Linked DNA regions of Homo sapiens: region 1 is linked to region 2. Evidence: fine-mapped expression QTL. Tissue or cell type: thyroid. Region 2 holds a variant in brackets; the other region holds the start of a gene. All regions are shown on one strand. Distances are between the middles of the regions.

Region 1 (2,746 bases), 44 kb before region 2:
GTTCCTATTATTCATGTATGTTACACATTTCCATAAATTGCTTTCACATAGCACTTTACACCGGCACAGCGCGTCCAGGCTTCCAAAACACCTTCACGTGAATCCCTGCATCTAGAATGGTGGTTAAGAGTTAGACATGCCTGCACAGCCATTAAATGGCACAGCACACGGGGGACCCGTGTCTGATGCTCCCACAGCACATTAATTGCCCCTCTATTTCAGCCCTTCTGGTACACTGTAATTCTCTCTCTCACTTGATCAGCTCTTTGAGGAGGTCCCGTTCCTCTTCGTATCCCCAGGCCACACACAACCCAGACCACAGAGGTGCACCGTAGACATCAAGATTCTTCCACCTGCTGCAAGCCTGATGCTTTACCGGCGGGGCCTCTGCAGGGGAGCCTGATTTATACTCATCCCAGCTCCCACCCAGCCCCACGCCCGCCACGTGTGATTTCCACAGCCGCACCAAGGAAGACTGTCCAGCACACAGACTTTTCGTCTCCCAGCAAAATTATCCCCGGCACAACGCTTCCCCCTCAAGTCTGCCCAATGGCTTTCCCATTTCCACCGCAGCCCAGGTTGGGGGGCAGTGGCTGAGCCTGGGCCCCCTCCCAGCCCCGCTGCGGCAACCTAGGGGGGTGTCCGGGCGGGGCCTGTCAGCAGCGACCCGCCCCCGGGCACACGCGCGTCAGGGGCAGCACCGCCAAGCTGCCTGTGCAGCCCCATCCAGCAGGAGTCCCGCGGCTGCCGGCCGCCCGACGCCCCCCCCTCCCCAGCACCCCACACAGCTCGCGACTCAGGTAGGCGAGGGCGCTCCTTACGCACCCGAGAAGGCAGCGGTCGCAGACGACGCCACGACTCCCCTTGCACACCGTGTACGCCAAGGGATCCGAGCGGAAGAGTAGCTCTCCGGGGCGCAGCGGGGTCACGGCGCGCAGCCCGTTTCCCCTCTTGGCGGTTGCGAACTTTTCCACCTTCAGCGGCTCCATCCTCCCGCAGCTCCGGCACCTCAGACGGCTACCCGCGTCCAGCAGCGGGCGTCTCACGGGCTGCCGGGACCCGCGCGCCTGCGCCCTGCGCGCACACGTACGCCCGAGGGGCGGGGCGGGCGCGGTGGGGCAAGAGCATGCGCAGATGGAGTCTGGAGGGACGGCTGGAGTGGAGTGTGTGGGACCTGAAGGTGGTCGTAAGGCTCCGCGTGCGGCTCGTGCCCATGGCGACTGCGCAGAAGACAGGCGGGGTTTTTTTTCTCCCTCTAACATTGTATTACGATCATTTTAACGCATACGGAACAGTTGAAAACAGTGCAGTGAACACCTATATACCTCCGCCTAAATCAGACAACCTAGCACTTTGCCATTTCTGCTCGTCACTCTCTCCCCACCTGTAGCTATGTATACACGTATTGTCGTTAAACTATTTCAAAGTTGCAGGCATCATGACATCACAACTAGTACTTTGCACTGTAACTTTTTTTTGTTTTAGGACGGAGTCTTGCTCTGTCGCCCAGGCTGGAGTGCAGTGGCGAGATCTCGGCTCACTGCAACCTCTGACCTCCGGGTTCAAGCGATTCTCCTGCCTCAGCCTCCATAGTAGCTGGGACTACAGGCATGTGCAATCCTCCCGCCTGGGCCTCCTGACTAGATGGGACTATAGGCTCACGCCACCATGCCTGGCTAATGCTTTTTACTTTCCTCCAGAGACAGTCTACCTATGTCGCCCAGGCTAGTCGCAAACTCCTGGCCTCAAGTGAACCTGAACCTCCTGCCTCGACCTCTCGAATTGCTGGAATTACAGGTGTGAGCCACCACACCCAGCTTAATTTTCTTTTTTGTTTTTGGGGTTTGTTTTGTTTTGTTTTGTTTTTTGAGACGGAGTCTCATTCTCGCCCAGGCTGGAATGCAGTGGTACGATATTGGCTCACTGCAACCTCTGCCTCCCGGGTTCAAGCGATTCTCCTGCCTCAGCCTCTTGAGTAGCTGGGACTACAGGCGCCTGCCACCACGCCCGGCTAATTTTTGTATTTTTAGTAGAGACGAGGTTTCACCGTGTTAGCCAGGATGGTCTCGATCTAACCTTGTGATCCGCCCGCCTCGGCCTCTCAAAGTGCTGGGATTACAGGCGTGAGCCACCGCGCCCAGCCCACCCGGCCTAAATTTCTTAGTTTGGACAAACGTGCCATGGTAATGCAAAATGTCATTATTAAGGGCAGCTGGATGGAAGGTGTAGGAGTACACTATAGTGCCTTTCAATTTTTCTGTGTATCTAAAGTCATTTCAAAAGTAAACATTTATTTTAAAACATGAAGGTGGTTATGCTTCCATGAGTGTAAAGTACAAAAGGCAGGCTCGTGGTGCTGTCAGAAGTCAGAACACTGGTTTCAGGGCTGGGGGTGTTGGGAGGGGCTGGGCATGGTTGGCTTTGTGATCTGGGGGCTGGTGTGTTCCATCTGTGAATATCTTTTAAGCTGTGCACTTACCAGGGATGTAAGTCATATCTTAATAAATTTTCATAAGTTTGACAAAAAATAAAATGAGGATGGGAAGCTTGTTTGGGTTGTGGGGCCTCGGGTGCTTATCCAGCCATGAGCTGTGTCCCAGATGCTTCTAGAAGCCTGGAGGGAGCTGAGAACATTCCAAGTCGAGGTGGCAGAGCCAAGGCCCTGAGGTGGGAGCGCAATGCTGCACATCCCCAGCTGTGAATGGGGTGTCCTGGTCAGAAGCAGTGCTGTGTGCACTGCAGGGCC
Region 2 (2,500 bases):
GAGATAACATTCCTGAGCTTAAAAAAAAAATACAGCAAGGTGCAGACTGAAGACCTCAGCATATTCTCAGGCGGAAGCAGTGACGAGAACACGTGAAGATCCACATTGTAAATATTTAAAAATTAGAGCCAGGGCCAGGCGCAGTGGCTCACGCCTGTAATCCCAGCACTTTAAGAGGCTGAGGCGGGTAGATCACCTGAGGTCAGGAGCTCAAGGCCAGCCTGGCCAATGTGGTGAAACCTGTCTCTACCGAAAATACAAAAATTAGCAAGGTGTGGCGGTGCACGCCTGTAGTCCCAGCTACTCGGGAGGCCGAGGCAGGGGAATTGCTTGAATACAGGATGTAGAGGTTGCAGTGAGCCGAGATCGAACCACTGCTCCCCAGCCTGGGTGACTTGAGTGAGACTCCATCTCAAAAAATAAAAAAATAAAAAATAGAGCCAGGTGCAGTGGGTCATGCCTGTAATCCCAGTGATCTGGGAGGCTAAGGCAGAAGGATCACTTGAGGCCAGGAGTTCAAGACCAGGCTGGGCAATATTCTTAAACATTTTAAAACTTAGCCAGGCATGGTGGCGCCTGGCTGTAGTCCCAGCTACTCCAGAGGCTAAGGTGAGAGGATCACTTGAGTCCAGTAGTTCAAGGCTGCAGCAAGCTATGATTGTGCCACTGCACTCCAGCCTGGGCAACATAATGAGACCCTGTCGCTAAAGAAAAACGTTTTTAAACAGAAGGATTTTACTCACCATGTGCAGAACCTTAATCTCACAAGCTAATTGCCAGATAACACTTAATACATGATACAAGTCTGGATTTCCGGGATCTGCCATTAGTTTCTAGTAAAAGGAAAATAAAAATTACATGTTATACACATCTATAATCAATTAAAAACAAATGCTGACTCTTAATAGGACTATCTTAATGGCATCTAGACATTTAAGAAAAGAAAACTAGAATTAGATGCAAAAAGCCGGGTGCAGCGGTGCACGCCTGTAGTCCCAGCTACTCGAAAGGCTGAGGCAAGGGGACTGCTTGAGCCCAGGCATTTGGGCGTTCCGTGTGAGATGATCGTGCCTGTGAATAGCCACAGCACTCCGGCAGGGGCAACG[G/C]CAGGGCACGCGGGGTCACGCTTGTAATTCCAGCACTTTGGGAGGCCAAGGTGGGAGGATGCTTGAGCCTAGAAGTTCAAGACCAGCCTGGGCAACATAGTGAGACCGCATCTCTTAAAAAACAACAACACACAAGTGTTAAGGCTGACTTGAAAGGACGAGGTTACCTCAACGAATGGGAAGGCACTCCGCAGACAAGAAACCACATGTGAAAAGGTCCACGGCAAAAGAGGCATGGGCCAGTGGAATATAACCCTAGCAGCAGGAATCTAACACAGCACTTCCTATTCTTCTCCTTGTCTTTCCTTTGTTGAATAGCGTATGCACAGCCCCAAGGTCCTGAGGCCCTCGCTGTCTTTCCATGGCTAGCAAATATGTATTTACTAAATGGGTCTGGGGGAGCAAATCATCCCTTCATTTTTTGCCCCACTATCCTAATCCATAGCAATACAAATAAGCATTATAAAAATCTTAATCTTCTTTGAGTCTTAATAGTACTATCTTAATAGCATCTAGAAATTTAAGCAGAGAAAACTAGAATTAGATACAAAAAGCTGGGTGCAGTGGTGTGCACATGTAGTCCCAGCTACTCGAAAGGCTGAGGCAAGGGGACTGCTTGAGTCTAGGAGTTTGGGGGTTCAGTGTGAGATGACCGTGCCTGTGAAAAGCCATAGCACTCCAGCATGGGCAACACAGCAAGACAAACAAGCATTTCCCGTCAAACTGGATTAACAGATCAATAACATGAAACATTCTGGGCAGAAAAGAAAGATGACACTCATAGCGAGATCAAGGTTGTCAGGAAGACCTTCCATTACAGAGAATTGAACTAGAGTCTCAAATCTTAGGCTCGGTGTAATGGCTCACAACTGTAATCCTAGCACTTTGGGAGGCCGAGGCAGGAGAATCACTTGAAGACAGGAGTTCAAGACCACCCTGAACAACACAGCATGACCCTGTCACTACAAAAATAAACTACCTGGGTGTGGTGGTGTGCACAGGTGGTCCCAGCTACAGGGAGGCTGAGGCAGGAGTGTCACTTGAGCCCAGGAGTTTGAGGCTGCAGTGAGCTATGAACATACCACGACATTCAAGCCTGGGCAACAGAGCAAGACCCTGTCTCTAAAAAAATTTCTTTTAATGTTTTAAAGTTAAAAAAAATAATTATAATACCCCTTAAATATTAAAAAAAAATCCTGTTAAAACTAATAAATTCAGCTGAGTATGGTAGCTCACACTTGTAATCCCAGCATTTTGGGAGGCCGAGGGAGGAGGATCACTTAAGCCCAGGTGTTTGAGACCAGCCTGGGCAACAAAGTGAGACACTGTCTCTATTTAAAAACAAAGGGAGGGAAAAAAAACCTGGCTGGGCGCTGTGGCTCATACCTGTAATC

Evidence for each region. PIP is the estimated chance that this variant, and not a neighbour inherited with it, causes the effect.
Region 1: SMYD3 starts here. The variant in region 2 is fine-mapped to the expression of SMYD3 in thyroid (GTEx, PIP above 0.99).

Annotation. Positions count from the first base shown.
Region 1 is chr1:246,506,229-246,508,974 of GRCh38, forward strand. SMYD3 (SET and MYND domain containing 3) reads right to left here and starts at 1,051. Exons shown (of 12, transcript NM_001167740.2): 1 at 826-1,051. The coding sequence starts at 989. RefSeq lists enhancers at 2-502, 503-1,003 and silencers at 689-738, 1,009-1,188, 1,678-1,910.
Region 2 is chr1:246,550,470-246,552,969 of GRCh38, forward strand. It overlaps TFB2M (transcription factor B2, mitochondrial), which reads right to left. Exons shown (of 8, transcript NM_022366.3): 5 at 744-833. Among named protein-coding and RNA genes, the nearest start is that of TFB2M, 15 kb to the right of the region's middle. The variant G/C (reference allele first, on the strand shown) is at 1,107.